2 separate regions of the Homo sapiens genome follow, and region 2 is linked to region 1. Evidence: fine-mapped expression QTL. A gene starts in region 1. The other region holds a variant in brackets. All regions are shown on one strand. Distances are between the middles of the regions.

What was found. PIP is the estimated chance that this variant, and not a neighbour inherited with it, causes the effect.
Region 2: its variant is fine-mapped to the expression of ADA in blood mononuclear cells (TOPMed, PIP above 0.99).

What each region holds. Positions count from the first base shown.
Region 1 is chr20:44,647,784-44,656,107 of GRCh38, forward strand. ADA (adenosine deaminase) reads right to left here and starts at 3,916. Exons shown (of 12, transcript NM_000022.4): 1 at 3,792-3,916. The coding sequence starts at 3,824. RefSeq lists silencers at 84-252, 3,725-4,114 and enhancers at 275-775, 3,365-3,474, 3,705-4,688.
Region 2 is chr20:44,670,157-44,678,480 of GRCh38, forward strand. LINC01260 (long intergenic non-protein coding RNA 1260) reads right to left here and starts at 1,583. Exons shown (of 5, transcript NR_034104.1): 1 at 1,483-1,583. RefSeq lists enhancers at 322-823, 824-1,323, 7,811-8,311, 8,312-8,324. The variant C/G (reference allele first, on the strand shown) is at 4,660.

The sequences.
Region 1 (8,324 bases):
GTGGACGCCTGTAATCCCAGCTACTCCGGAGGCTGAGGCAGAAGAATGGCTTGAACTCGGGAGGTGGAGGTTGTAGTGAGCCAGGATCACACCACTGCACTCCAGCCTGGGCAACAGAGTGAGACTGCGGCACACGCCTGTAGTCCCAGCTACTTGGGAGGCTGAGGCAGGAGGATCGCATGAACCCAGGAGGCAGAGGTTGCAGGGACCCAAAATCTTGCCACTGCACTCCAGCTTGGGCGACAGAGTGAGATTCTGGCAAAAAAGAAAAAGTCACTGAAGGCACCTGGTACCCAGGACTACTTCAAGGACAGCTATTGTTATGATTATTGTAACAGGCATGTGATCAGCACTGGCCTCCAGGATGCAGAATGCCTGAGTGCCTGGTGCCACCTGTGAACATAGGCTGATAAGGGCCACCCCTGCAACCCCCCTTTCCACTTCTTCCAGTGCCCAGCAGGTGCTAAGTCAAACCAGGTGGGGGTATGGGAGGCACACCCGACAGGGCAAACTTGACTTGGGCATCCCCTGACGATGACCCTGCATGGCAGGCACACTTGAATGGGTGTTCAGAGTTCTGAGCGAAGGAATCCAAGAGTGGCCAACCTGGAGATCCAGTCGTTATCTATGAGGAACATCTGAGCCCCACCCCATTCCCACGGGACACTGACCATACAGGGGTATAGGGACCGAGGCCCTTTGTTTTGGGTTAAATGAAGGTTACTAGGTGGAGATGGTTGGGAGAAGGTGTTAAATGAAAATGCTACATAAACTGCATGATTTGCAAGTGGTTGCGGTTCTTCTGCTCAGTCTGCCGCCACTGGACTCTCTTCCCTGTGTCTAAGCCCCCAGTAAAACCCCGTATCTTGTTTGCTACCTCTTCCAAAGAAGGTAGCCTCTTGAACCTGGTGCTATATCCATTGGAGTCAATAGGGGTCCCGCACAACAGAAGGCAGCTGCCTAGGGCCTTGCTAAGCAAAGTGTGTTCCTGGATCGTTGACATTAGCATTTCCTGGGAGCTGGTCAGCAGTGCAGCATCGCAGGCCCCAACCCGACCCACACAGAATCACAGTGTGAACATTAAAAGTCAGGCCACTTGAGTGCAGTTTGAAAAGCGCTGCCCTGCTCTGCTTTCTTCTAGCTGACCAGGTCCCAGGCCTCAGCTGGTGGCAGGTATGAGAAGCTGAAGGACACAGCAAAGGCTCCTGTCTCAGGAGGTTTGCACCTGGGGCACTGGCACCTCTATCCCCAAAGGCTTCTGCAGAGGTAGTTTAGGAAAGATGGTTAGAGGCATGGGATTTCGAAGCCAGCCTCCCTTGGACTCAAACCCCAGATTGGACATTTCCTAGCTGTGTGATCTTGGGCCTAGTTAACCTCTCTGTGCCTGGATTAAATAAAAAATGCAGATAATGTGTTTAGAACGGTGCCTGGCACAGAAACATCAACACTCCATTAGCTGCAGCTAGTAATGCTAATAATTATAACTGTCATCTGTCCCTCCCACAAGAGGGCAGGGAGCTGGCTCTGGTCACAGTGGCTCTGAGATTCACACTCCTTCCCACTTCTCCTGCCAGCTCACACAAGTTCCTCCTCACAATCATACAAGATTTGTCACGCCTCAAACACATGGCAGGTAACATTCTACCTTCACTCTCAAGCATCACCTTGTGGCCTTGGGACTCAGGACACGGGACACCCACATAAGCAGCTGATGTTCCATCCTCCAGGTGTGGACACTGAGGTCCCAATAGGGAAAATGATCTGCCAGCTTGAATCAGATGGGAGGACTGAGCAAGGCCAAAAAATGGGGATAATAATATGAGCCCCTCCCTTGATGGGCTGTTACAGAAGAACTGCAAGGATCCAATGGGTGTCTGCAACAAGTGCTCTAGAAGTGGGCCCTGCTGTTCTCTCCATAACTCCCAACATGTTCGCAATCAAGGAGCCTTTTTTTTTTTTTTTTTTTTTTTGAGACAGCGTCTCACTCTGTCACCCAGGCTGGAGTGCAATGGCGAGATCTCGGCTCACTGCAAGCTCCACCTCCTGGGTTTATGCCATTCTCCTGCCTCAGCCTTCTGCGTAGCTGGGACTACAGGCGCCCGCCACCATGCCCAGCTAATTTTTTATATTTTTAGTAGAAATGGGGTTTTGCCATGTTGGCCAGGCTGGTCTCGAACTCCTGGCCTCATGATCCACCCACCTTTGCCTCCCAAAGTGCTGGGATTATAGGCGTGAGCCACTGCACCCCGCCAATCAAAGAGCTTTGCTATTGCCATAGGATTCACATCAGGGTACAGTGGGTCCCCAGCCCAAGGGCAGAGGGAGCCCAGAGCATTTAATAAAAAGACTGCAAAGGGGAGGCGCCAATCATGGGCCCCAGCTCCAGTAAGACGTGAAGGAGGCAGGGGTGGGGGTAGGAGGGCTTGTACAGCACCTCAGTGCTTCCAGCTTCTGACGGGGAGTAGCTGAGCATTTTCCCTGGGCTGGGGGCATCAGTAGTGGGGGCCAGGCCTCACCCTCCTCAGAAGGTAGGTGGGCTCTCCACAGCCTGTCTCCCTCACTGACACATGCACACTCACTGGATTCTCACCGGCACTTTTGTGATAGCTGTCATCATCATTCACACCTATTTCTTTTCTTTTCTTTTTCTTCTCTTTTTTTTGAGACAGGGTCTCGCTCTGTCTCCCAGGCTGAAGTGCAGTGGCACCATCACACCTCACTGCAGCCTCAACCTCCTGGGCTCAAGCGATCCTCCCGCCTCAGCCTCCTGAGTAGCTGGGACTACGGGAGTGCACCACCACACACACTTCCCCTAACTTTTTTTATTTTTTGGAGAGACGGGGTCTAGTTTTGTTGTCCAGGCTAGTCTCAAACTCCTGGACTCAAATGATCCTCCCGCCTCAGCCTCACAAAGTGCTGGGATTACAGGCGTGAGCCAACCTCCTGGGCCACTCACACCTATTTCTTAGAAGGGTAAGTTGAGGCTGACTGCAGCTGACTCCTTCCCCAACCACTCTCACACCCTACTGGCTGACTCACCCTGCTTGGCAGACTCCTGGGCCCCTCCTCTCGGACTCTGCGACAGGCCAAGGGGGTCCAGACCCTCCCTGACCCCAACAGTCCCAAGACGCCACAGCTGGTGGGCGGAGAAACAAGGGGATTCTCCCCTGGGGCCAGTGGCCATGGCTTGGCCTCGAGTGAACCCTGCTAGGGCCCCAAACCCAGGGCCTACCTAGCTCCTGTTCTTCCCGCGCGGGGGAAGGGGGGTGCTCTGCTCCCCTCCCTCCCCTTTCTGGCAGGGCTCACGGTTCTTCCCCGGGGCGCATCCACAAACCTGAGCTCCTTGGCGCTCACCACCATAACGCTGGCGTACAAAGCTGCTTCCATTCACTGAGCACTCAGTAGGCGCCGGGCACAGCACTAGGTGCCTATCCGGCGTAGACATCGGGCCTGATCATACAGCTGAGCTTCAGAGACCTCAAGTCCCTGCCCAGGCCCACACAGCGCTCAGCGGTGCTAGGATGCCCACTTGACAGACAGCGAAACTGAGACCCAGAGGGGTCAAGTCAGGGGCAGAAGCAGACTCTGGAGGCCTCCGGGTTCTGGACCTTCTCTGCCCCATTGTCCCTGATTAGCCCGCAAGCAAGCCACGGCCTAAGCCGAAGGAAGAACTCGCCTGCAGGAGCCCCCGTTCGTTCCCAGGGTTTGGACGCCCCGGGCTGGGCCCCGCTAAGCCCCTCGGGCCGCCCAGGCGCCGGACCCCCGTCCCCGGAGCCCCCGCGCGCGCTCACTTTGGGCTTGTCGAAGGCGGGCGTCTGGGCCATGGTGCCCTCGTGCGCCCCGGCGCTGCTCCCTCCGCCGCCGCTCGGTGGGTCTCTGCCGGCTCGGTGGCCGCTCGGCTTTCCCTGGGGCCAGCGGTGGCCGCGGCCGGCCACGCTCTTCTTAACGGGCCGGGCCCCGCCTCCCGCCCCGCCCGCCGCCGTTCCCGGGGCCCGCCCTCTCGCCGGAGCCCCCGCCCCGCCCGCCGGCCTGGATCGCGCATTTCCTGGAATTCTGGACCCGGCGTCCTCGCCCGCCGACCCGAAAACTACGGCCCCGCGGCGCCCGACCGGACCCACCTGTGGGCGCGCGCTCCAGCCGCCTCGCTGGGCGCTGCCTTCCCCCCGGCTCCTCCAGCAACTTTCAAGCGTCCCCCTGCAGTCTGGGCGCTGCTGTGCGCCAGGCCCAAGCTAGAAGCGGGGACCCCGGGAGCATCGCAAGCCTCGAGCGGCGTGCCTTCCACCGGATAGACGGACGCTCGTCGCAGAAACACACACCATAATTGTATAGTTAAGGAACTTTCGAGGGGGGCCAGCCGTGGCCTGCAGAACCTGCAGGAGTTCATCAGGGGTGGGTGGGGGTGGAGAGGACATTCTACGTGAGAGACTCCAGGGAGCTGGGAGTGAAAGGAGGCGAGGAAGGCTGGAGCTCGGAGGGAGGGAGAACACAGACAGTCCCCTCCTGGGCATTCACCTTTAAGAAACCCGCCCAGGCGCAGCCAGAGACCTGTGCAGAATGTTCACACCAGCGCTATTCCGAATAACAGGAACATTGGAAACACCCTCAAATGCCCCTCCACGGGCGAGTGGGCAAATAAACCGGAATATTCACACCATGAAACGTTAGACAGCAGTGAAACGGAATGAACTTCAGCCAGACAACAACAGAAACAATGTCTCAGAAACAATGTTGAGTGAAAAAAACTAAGTTGCGGAAAACTGCATACAATGGTGCAACTTTTAGAATGTGTAAAAGCAAAACCAAAAGTATGTATGTTTAGACACATGCATCGGTGGAAAAAATGTAAAGCAAGGGAAAGATGAGCATAGATACGAGAAGAGTGGTTATCTCAGGTGAAAGGGAAGGAGCCGGGAGGAGGTAAGGACGGAGGGAAATAACACGCGGGTACAGGTTATTTATTTATTTATTTATTTATTTATTTATTTATTTATTTATTTACTGAGACGGAGTTTCGCTCTTTCGCGGAGGCTGCAGTGAAGTGGCGCGATCTGGGCTCACTGCAACCTCTGCCCCTCTGGCCCGCCTCCTCCCCACCGCTCCCCCGCACCCCCAGCGTTTCAAGCGATTTTCCTGTCTCAGCCTCCCGAGTAGCTGGGATTATAGGCGCCCACAACCACGCCTGGCTAATTTTTGTTTTTTGTTTTTTTGTTTTTGTTTTTGTTTTTTTGAGATGGACTCTTGCTCTGTCGCCCAGGCTGGAGTGCAGTGGCGAAATCTCGGCTCACTGCAACCTCCACCTCCTGGATTTTAAGCAGTTCTCGGCCTCAGCGTCCCGAGTAGCTGGGATTACAGGCGCGTGGCACCGTGCCCTGCTAAGTTTTGGATTTGTAGTAGAGACGGGGTTTCACCATGTTGGCCAGGCTGGTCTCGAACACCTGACCTCACATGATCCACCCACCTCGGCTTCCCAAGGCGTGATTACAGGCATGAGCCACCACGCCTGGCCACACACAGGTTATTGATAATGTTCCAGTACTGGGGTGGATGGTAGCTTCATTTCATTTCATCATAAATAAATTAACAAACCCATAAACAAGGGGGAAAGAGAGAGTGGGAGAGTGGAGAGCAAGGGGCTAGAAGGTCTGATGGGAGCTGAATCCTGCCAGGGATGTGGGACCCAGCGATGGTGTGGGATTCCTAGGAAGTCAGTGGAGTGTTTTAAGTGGAGGCGAGACAAAATCACCCTTTTATTTGGAAAAAATATTCTCCAGCTACTGAAAGTGTGATCCAGGGATCATCAGCACCCACATCACCTGGGAGCTGACTACAAATGCAGACTTTCAGACCCCATCCCAGACCTACTGAAGTAGAATCTGTATTTTATACAAACAGGACCCCCAGGTGGTTCGCACCCACAGGGCACTTTGAGAAGCCTGGGCTCCCTGCTGTGAGGGGAGGGCATTACAGGGGGCCAGCGGGGGTGAGGGAGGACAGGATACCAGGAAGGAGGCAACTGCCATGGTCTGGGTAGGGCATAGTGATGTCAGTGGGGGAAGTGGAGAAACTCATATTCAAGCTGCATTTAGGGTGTAAAATCAGCTGGATTTGGGGTTTGGTTGTATGTGGGAGTGAGGGAGAGGGTGGCTGTATTAGTCCATTATTTTCATGCTACTGATGAAGACATACCCGAGCCTGGGCGCAGTGGTTCATGCCTGTAATCCCAGGACTTTGGGAGGCCAAGGCAGGAGGATCACCTGAGGTCGGGAGTTTGAGACCAGCCTGACCAACATGGTGAAACCCCGTCTCTACTAAAAAAAAAAAAAAAAATACAAAATTAGCCAGGCGTGGTGGTGTATGACTGTAATCCCAGCTACTCGGGAGGCTGAGGCAGGAGAATCGCTTGAACCTGGGAGGTGGAGGTTGTGGTGAGCCAAGATTACACCATTGCATTCCAGCCTGGGCAACAAGAGCGAAACTCCATCTCATGAAAAAAAAAAAAAAGACATACCTGAGACTGGGTAATTTACAAAAGAAAGAGGCTTTAATAGACTTACAGTTCCACAATGGTGGGGAGGCCTTGCAATCATGGCAGAAGGCAAAGGAGGAGCAAGTCACGTCTTACATGGATGGCAGTAGACAAAGAGAGAGCGCCTGCAGGGAAACTCCCATTTTTAAAACCATCAGATCTTGTGAGACTTATTTACTATCACAAGAACAGCATGGGAAAGACCATCCCCCATGATTCAATTATCTCCCGCCGAGTCTCTCCCACAACATGTAGGAATTATGGGAGCTACTAGATGAGATTTGGGTGAGGACACAAAGCCAAACCCTATCAGTGGGTCTCATACATTGTCAAAGCCAGGGGAGTTTTTTGTAAGATCCTTTCTTGGCTCTCTGTGTTACTCGGGTTCAATAATAGGGGCTGCCATTTACTGAGACAGGTTTGGAGCCAGGTACACTGGGAAGCACTTTATAAGCACCCATCCCATTTCATCTTTACAGTCATCCTCAGATGTAGGAGGTGTTCTCCTCATTTTACAGATGAGGACACTGAGGTTCAGATAGAGAGACAGCCTGCTTGGCTCATGGGTTGTAAGTGGCAAAACTGGGGTTTAAATTTGAATCTGACTCGAGAAACTTCACTCCCCACCTTATTGCCTCCCCAGCCTCTCATGACATTCAAGTCCCTCTTCAACATCAGTCCCACCACTTCCCACCACATTGCTGAAATGCCAATCAACCTAGATGAGTTGCTGGTTGCTTAAGGGTGACACAAATTATTTGCAATTCTTCACATTGCAAGATGGAGTCTAGGTTTCCTCCTCTTGGACCTGGGCTGGCCTGAGTGACTTGTTGGAGTAATAGAGCGTGATGGGAGCAAGCTTCCTGGATTTCCGAGCCTTGGTCATAAAGAAGCTTTGTGGTGTCCTTTGGGGCCTCTTGAACATTCTCTCTGGGAACCCAAGCTTCTAGAAGAGACCATCATGCTAAGAGAGTCCACATATGGCCATTCCAGTTGACAGTCCCACTGAGCCCAGGCTTCCACCATCCCTACGAAGACAGCAATCATGTTAGCGAAGCTGTGTTGGGCCATCCAGCCCAGCTGCCCACTGAAAACCAGGCTTTGGTCAATGCCATGTGGGACAGAAGAATTACCCAAGTAAGCCCAGCCCAAATTCCTGACCTATAGTATTGAGATATGTAATGAAATGGATGTTATTTTAAGCCATTGTGTTTTAGGGGGAGATTGTCACACAGCAGTAGGTAACAGGAATGCTTGCTTCTACCTGCCCCAGCCCTCCAGCCTCTGCACCTTAGTCACTTCCATCCTGACACCTGGAAAACCCTTTACCCAGATCCTAGACTATCAAAATTCTGCATTCCAAATGGGTCAGATCCAAAGGGCCAGGCTGCGTGATGCAGTTCTTCTGTTTGCCCCTGCAGGTGCACTCTCCACCCTTCTGCACGCTGCTCTGCTCCTCTGTGTCCGGCAGCCATGCTGCTGTGGGTGAGACCAATGGGCTCTCCTGCCCTCTGGCTCTGGTTGGGTTTTGTCAACAGGGAGCACCAGCAGGAGAACAGCAGATGAGAGGAGAGAGGTCAGGATATTCATTCCCCCTTTCCCTCGGTGCACAGTCACTGGGCTGACTGTGTCTCTCTACCAAGGCCACATCTCCTGTCAGTCCTCCTGGCCCACCTCTCCATACCCTCCCCATTCCAGATTCCCTCTTGCCTATTGATTGATTGATTGATTTTGAGACAGAGTCTCACTCTGTCGCCCAGGGTGGAGTGCAGTGGTGCAATCCCAGCTCACTGCAACC
Region 2 (8,324 bases), 22 kb after region 1:
AAAAGGAGAAAAGAAACGGGGGAGAGGGAGAGACATTCTGTTGGTCTCAAGTTGTCTTTTTCAGGTCTTTTGTGTCAGGCCTCTGAGCCCAAGCTAAGCCGTCATATCCCCTGTGACCTGCATGTATACATCCAGATGGCCTGAAGCAACTGAAGATCCACAAAAGAAGTGAAAATAGCCTTAACTGATGACCTTTCACCATTGTGATTTGTTTCTGCCCCACCCTAACTGATCAATGTACTTTATAATCTCCCCCCACTTAAGAAAGTTCTTTGTAATCTCCCCCACCCTTAAGAAAGTTCTTTGTAATTCTCCCCACCCTTGAGAATGTACTTTGTGAGATCCACCCGCTGCCCACAAAACATTGCTCCTAACTCCACTGCCTATCCCAAAACCTGTAAGAACTAATGATAATCCCACCACCCTTTGCTGACTCTCTTTTCGGACTCAGCCCGCCTGCATCCAGGTGAAATAAACAGCCTTGTTGCTCACACAAAGCCTGTTTGGTGGTCTCTTCACACAGATGCGTGTGACATTTGGTGCTGAAGACCCGGGTCAGAGGGACTCCTTCGGGAGACCAGTCCCCTGTCCTCACCCTCACTCCGTGAAGAGATCCACTTACGACCTCGGGTCCTCAGATCAACCAGCCCAAGGAACATCTCACCAATTTCAAATTGGGTAAGTGGTCTTTTCACTCTCTTCTCCAGCCTCTCTTGCTACCCTTCAATCTCTCTGTCCTTCCAATTCCAGTTCTTTTTCCTCTCCAGTAGAGACAAAGGAGACACATTTTATCCGTGAACCCAAAACTCCAGGGCCGGTCACAGACTCAGGAAGACAGTCTTCCCTTGCCATTTAATCACTGCGGGGACGCCTGCCTGATTATTCACCCACATTCCATTGGTGTCCGATCACCGCAGGGACGCCTGCTTTGGTCATTCACCCACATTCCCTTGGTGGCAAGTCAATTGCGGGGACGCCTGCTTTGGCTGCTCACCCACATTGCAGCCCAGGGCTGCTCCCCACCCCCTTCTCCATATCTCTACCCTTCTCTTTAAACTTGCCTCCTTCACTATGGGCAAACTTCCACCCTCCATTCCTCCTTCTTCTCCCTTAGCCTATGTTCTCAAGAACTTAAAACCTCTTCAACTCTCACCTGACCTAAAATCTAAGCATCTTATTTTCTTCTGCAACACCACTTGGCCCCAATACAAACTAACAATGGTTCTAAATGGCCAGAAAATGGCACTTTTCATTTCTCCGTCCTACAAGACCTAGATAATTTTTGTTGAAAAATGGGCAAATGGTCTGAGGTGTCTTACGTCCAGGCATTTTTCACACTTCGTTCCCTCCCTAGTCTCTGTTCCCAATGCGACTCGTCCCAAATCCTCCTTCTTTCCCTCCCACCTGTCCCTTCAGTCCCAACCCCAAGCGTCGCTGAGTCTTGTGAATCTTCCTTTTCTACTGAACCATCTGACGTCTCACCTTCTTCCCAGACTGCTCCTCCTCAGCTCGCTCCCCACCAGGCTGAATCAGCCTCCAACTCTTCTTCAGCCTCTGCTCCCACATCCTATAACCCTTCTATTACCCGCCCTCCCCACACCCAGTCTGGTTTTCAGTTTCGTTCTGCGGCTAGCTCTCCCCCACCTGCCCAACAATTTCCTCTTAGAGAGGTGGCTGGAGCTGAAGGCATAGTCAGGGTACATGTGCCTTTTTCTCTATCAGACCTTTCCCAAATCAGCCAGCATTTAGGCTCTTTCTCATCAGACCCCACTAAATATATACAGGAATCCCGATATCTAACTCTGTCCTACAGTTTAACCTGGAGTGACTGAAATGTCATCCTGACTTCTACCCTCTCCCCAGATGAACGGGAAAGAGTTTTTTCTCTAGCCCAATCTCACGCTGATAACCGCCGGCTTCATGAACCTGACCTCCAGGAAGGCAGTAGAGCAGTTCCCCGAGAGGACCCCCAATGGAACTATCAGGCAGATTCCCCAGGTATGGCTAGGCGAGATTACATGGTTTCCTGCCTAGTTGAAGGGCTTAAAAAGGCAGCTTACAAAGCTGTTAATTATGACAAACTTAGAGAAACTACCCAAGGTAAAGACGAAAACCCAGCTCAGTTCATGGCCCGCTCGGCAGCAACCCTTACACACTTTACCGCCCTAGACCCAGAGGGGCCAGAAGGCCGCCTTATTCTTAATATGCATTTTATCACCCAGCTCCTGACATTAGAAAAAAGCTTTAAAAATTGGAATCCGGCCCTCAAACCCCACAACACGAATTAATCAACCTCCCCTTCAAAGTGTACAATAATACAGAGGAGGTAGCCAGGCAGCAACGCATTTCTGAGTTACAGCTGCTCGCCTCCGCTGTAAGACAGCCCACAACCACGTCTCCAGCATACAAGAACTTCAGAACATCCAAGCCACAGCTCCCAGGGGCTCCTTCAAAACATCCTCGTGGACCTTGCTTCAAATGCTAAAAGCCTGGCCACTGGGCCTCAGAATGCCCGCAGCCCGGGATTCCTCCTAAGCCGTGCCCTGTCTGTGCGGGCCCCCGCTGGAGGTCGGACTGTCCGACTCACATCACTGCCACTCCTAAAGCCCCTGGAGCCCAAACCCTATGTTCCTTGGCCGACTCCTTCCCAGATCTCCTCGGCTTAGCAGCTGAAGACTGACGTAGCCCGATCGCCTCAGAAGCCTCCTGGACCATCACAGACGCTGAGCTTCGGGTAACTCTTAAAGTGGAGGGTAAGTCCATCCCGTTTAATCGATATGGGGGCTACCCACTCCACATTATCTTCTTTTCAAGGGCCTGTTTCCCTCGCCCCCATAACTGTTGTGGGTATTGATGGCCAAGCTTCAAAACCCCTTAAAACTCCCCCACTCTGGTGCCAACTTGGACAACGTTCTTTTATGCACTCTTTTTCAGTTATCCCCACCTGCCCAGCTTCCTTATTAGGCTGAGACATTTTAACCAAATTATCTGCTTCCCTGATTATTCCTGTACTACAGCCACATCTCATTGCCCCCTTCTTCCCAACCCAAAGCCTCCTTTGGGTCTTCCTCTCATATCCCCCGACCTTAACCCACAAATATGGGACACCTCCACTCCCTCCCTGGCAACCAATCACATGCCCATTACTATCCCATTAAAACCTAATCACGCTTACCCCACTCAATGCCAGTATCACATCCCACAACAGGCTTTAAGGGGATTAAATCCTGTTATCACTTGCCTGCTACAGCATGGGCTTCTAAAACCTATAAACTCTCCTTACAATTCTCCCATTTTACCTGTTCAAAAACCGGACAAGTCTTACAGGTTAGTTCAGGATCTGTGCCTTATCAACCAAATTGTTTTGCCTATCCACCCTGTGGTGCCCAACCCGTACGCTCTTTTGTCCTCAATATCTTCCTCCACAACTCACTATTCCATTCTTGATCTTTAAAATGCTTTTTTTCACTATTCTCCTACACCCCTTGTCCCAGCCTCTCTTTGCTTTTACCTGGACCGATCCTGACACCCATCAGTCCCAGCAGCTTACCTGGGCTGTACTGCCGCAAGGCTTCAGGGCCAGCCCTCATTACTTCAGCCAAGCTCTTTCTTATGATTTACTTTCTTTCCACCCCTCTGCTTCTTGCCTTATTCAATATATTGATGACCTTCTACTTTGTAGCCCCTCCTTTGAATCTTCTCAACAAGACACCCTCCTGCTCCTTCAACATTTATTCTCCAAGGGATATTGGGTATCCCTGTCCAAAGCTCAAATTTCTTCTCCATCCATTACCTACCTCAGCATAATTCTTCATAACAACACATGCGCTCTCCCTGCGGATCGTGTCCGACTGATCTCTCAAACCCCAGGCCCTTCTACAAAACAACAACTCCTTTACTTCCTGGGCGTGGTTGGATACTTTTGTCTTTGGATACCTGGTTTTGCCATCCTAACAAAACCATTGTATAAACTCACAAAAGGAAACCTAGCTGACTCCATAGATTCTCAATCCTTTCCCCACTCCTCTTTCTGTTCCTTGAAGACAGTTTTAGAGACTGCTCCCACACTAGCTCTCCCTGGCTCATCTCAACCCTTTTCATTACACGCAGCCGAAGTGTAGGGCTGTGCAGTTGGAATTCGTACACAAGGACTGGGACCGCACCCTATAGGCTTTTTGTCCAAACAACTTGACCTTACTGTTTTAGGCTGGCTATCATGTCTCCATGCGGTGGCCGCTGCTGCCCTAATACTTTTGGAGGCCCTCAAAATCACAAACTATGCTCAACTCACTCTCTACAGTTCTTATAACTTCCAAAATCTATTTTCTTCCTCACACCTGACACATATACTGTCTGCTCCCCGGCTCCTTCAGCTGTACTCACTCTTTGTTGAGTCTCCCACAGTTACCATTGTTCCTGGCCCGGACTTCAATCCAGCCTCCCACATTATTCCTGATACCACACGTGACCCCCATGACTGTATCTCTATGATACACCTGACATTCACTCTATTTCCCCACATTTCCTTCTTTCCTGTTCCTCACCCTGATCACACCTGGTATATTGATGGCAGTTCCACTAGGCCTAATCGCCACACACCAGCAAAGGCAGGCTATGCTATAGTATCTTCCACATCTATCATTGAGGCTACCACTCTGC[C/G]CACCTCCACTACCTCTCAGCAAGCTGAACTCATTGCCTTAACTCGAGCCCTCACTCTTGCAAAGGAACTACGCACTACGCATCAATATTTATACTGACTCTAAATATGCCTTCCATATCCTGCACCACCATGGTGTTAAATGGGCTGAAAGAGGTTTCCTCACTACGCAAGGGTCCTCCATCATTATTGCCTCTTTAATAAAAACTCTTCTCAAGGCCGCTTTACTTCCAAAGGAAACTGGAGTCATACACTGCAAGGGCCACCAAAAGGCATCAGATCCCATCGTTCAGGGCAACGCTTATGCTGATAAGGTAGCTAAAGAAAGAGCTAGCATTCCAACTTCTGTCCCTCACAGACAGTTTTTCTCCTCCTCATGGGTCACTCCCACCTACTCTCCTGCTGAAACTTCCACCTATCAATATCTTCCCACACAAGGCAAATGGTTCTTGGACCAAGAAAAATATCTCCTTCCAGCCTCACAGGCCCATTCTATTCTGTCATCATTTCATAACCTCTTCCATGTAGGTTACAAGCCGCTAGCCCGACTCTTAGAACCTCTCATTTCCTTTCCATCATGGAAATCTATCCTCAAGGAAATCACTTCTCAGTGTTCCATCTGCTATTCTACTACTCCTCAGGGATTGTTCAGGCCCCCTCCCTTCCCTACACATCCAGCTTGGGGATTTGCCCCTGCCCAGGACTGGCAAATTGACTTTACTCACATGTCCCGAGTCAGGAAACTAAAATACCTCTTGGTCTAGGTAGACACTTTCACTGGATGGGTAGAGGCCTTTCCCACAGGGTCTGAGAAGGCCATCATGGTCATTTCTTCCCTTCTGTCAGACATAATTCCTCAGTTTGGCCTTCCCACCTCTATACAGTCTGATAACGGATTGGCCTTTATTAGTCAAATCACCCAAGCCGTTTCTCAGGCTCTTGGTATTCAGTAGAAACTTCATACCCCTTACCGTCCTCAATCTTCAGGAAAGATGGAACGGACTAATGGTCTTTTCAAGACACACCTCACCAAGCTCAGCCTCCAACTTAAAAAGGAGGACTCTGTCAAGGATACAGCCCAAAAACTCAACAACCAAGCAAGTAATTACGCTGAACAGCCTTGGGCACTCTCTAATTGGATGTCCTGGGTCCTCCCACTTCTTAGTCCTTTAATACCTATTTCTCTCCTTTTATTCAGACCTTGTGTCTTTCATTTAGTTTCTCAATTCACACAAAACCGCATCCAGGCCATCACCAATAATTCTGTATGACAAATGCTCCTTCTAACAACCCCACAATACCACCCCTTACCCCAAAATCTTTCTTCAGTTGAATCTCTCCCACTGTAGGTTCCCATGCTGCCCCAATCCCACTCGAAGCAGCCCTGAGAAACATTGCCCATTATCTCTCCATACCAGCCCCAAAATTTTTCGCCACTCCAACACTTCACCACTATTTTGTTTTGCTTTTCTTATTAATATAAGAAGACAGGAATGTCAGGCCTCTGAGCCCAAGCTAAGCCATCATATCCCCTGTGACCTGCCTGTATACATCCAGATGGCCTGAAGCAACTGAAGATCCACAAAAGAAGTGAAAATAGCCTTAACTGATGACTTTCCACCATTGTGATTTGTTTCTGCCCCACCCTAACTGATCAATGTATTTTATAATCTCCCCCACCCTTAAGAAGGTTCTTTGTAACCCCCCCCCCGACCCTTAAGAAGGTTCTTTGTAATTCTCCCCACCCTTGAGAATGTACTTTGTGAGATCCAACCCCTGCCTGCAAAACATTGCTCCTAACTCCACCGCCTATCCCAAAACCTATAAGAACTAATAATAAACCCACCACCCTTTGCTGACTCTCTTTTCGGACTCAGCCCGCCTGCACCCAGGTGAAATAAACAGCTTTGTTGCTCACACAAAGCCTGTTTGGTGGTCTCTTCACACAGACGCACGTGACATTTTGATTGTTTGGAAAATTCAGTCTCCTCTCTATGAAAGAGTAAAAGTTTGCTTTTTGAAATATTTGAATCATCACTTTGGCTAGATGAATGACTACAATTTTAAACTCACTTTGCCAACACACTGACATTGGCAGAGTGCAAAGATGGCAAGAGGCTGGGTCCATGGTGACACTGTTAGGGAAACAGGAGCATAACAGAGTCAGGGTGACACCATTTTAAAATCAATTGTGGCTGGGCACAGTGGCTCATGCCTGTAATCCCAGCACTTTGGGAGGCTGAGGTGGGCGGATCACCTGAGGTCAGGAGTTCAAAGCCAGCCTGGCCAACATGGAGAAACCCCATCTCTATTAAAAGTACAACAATTAGTTGGGCATGATGGTGGGCACCTGTAATCCCAGCTACTTGAGAGGCTGAGGCAGGAGAATTGCTTGAGCCCGGGAGGCAGAGTTTGCAGTGAGCTGAGATCGTGTCACTGCACTCCAGCTTGGGTGACAGTGTGACACTCTGTCTCAAAAAATAAAATAAAATAATAAAATAATAAAATCAACTGCATCTTCAAACTAGCAAGGCACATTCCTTGGCAGTCACAACTCATGGCCATGATATGTTTTGGGTGAAGGAAGCGATTTAGTAATGCCTGCAAGGGCAAACTCCTATGGTGGCAGGGTGTCCAGATATCCTAATAGCACATAACAATATCTGCTTTTGAGATAGGTAAAGTCATGCTTTGAAGTATTTCCTCACTAAAATACCAAGGATAATTTTATTTAAATCAACAAAGCACTAAATTTTCTTTTTTCTTTTTTGAGATGCTCACTCTGTCGCCCAGGCTGGAGTGCAGTGGCACGATCTCGGCTCACTGCAAGCTCCACCTCCTGGGTTCACGCCATTCTCCTGCTTCAGCCTCCCAAGTAGCTGGGACTATAGGCGCCTGACACCATGCCTGGCTAATTTTTTGTATTTTTAGTAGAGACGGGGTTTCACCATGTTAGCCAGGATGGTCTTGATCTCCTGACCTCGTGATCCACCCGCCTTGGCCTCCCAAAGTGCTGGGATTACAGGTGTGAGCCACCACACCCGGCCTAAATTTTCTTTAAAAAAAAAAAATTATTGTATTTATGGCTGGGCACTGTGGCTCATGCCTGTAATTTTAGCACTTTGGGAGACTGAGGCAGGCGGATCACTTGAGGCCAGGAGTTTGAGACCAGCCTGGGCAACATGGCAAAATCCCATCCCTAATAAAAATACAAAAAAAAATTAGCTGAGCATGGTGGCACATGCCTGTAGTCCCAGCTACTTGGGAGGCTGAGGTGGGAGGATCACTTGAACCCGGGAGGCAGAGGTTGCAGTGAGCCAAGGTCGTGCCACTACTCTCCAGCCTGCACAACAGAAAGGACTCCATCTCCAAAAAAAAAAAAAAAAAAAGTATTTATTTATTTTTCATTTATTCCAGGCAGAAGAAACAGCAAATGCATAGGTCCTGAGGCAGGCATGCATTTGGCATGTTGGAAAACATGTGGCACTGGCCAGACCAAGCAAGGCCTTGGAGAACATGAAGAGCAGTCTGGCTTTTGCTCCAGTTGCCACAGAAGTCACTGGAAGAGGCCTCCTCTGAGATAAGACACTAAGAAAGCAGTGTCAGGCCAGTTAGACAGGTCTGGACTTGTCTTCTGGAGTCAAATGCAGGCGGCAGACATTTAAAT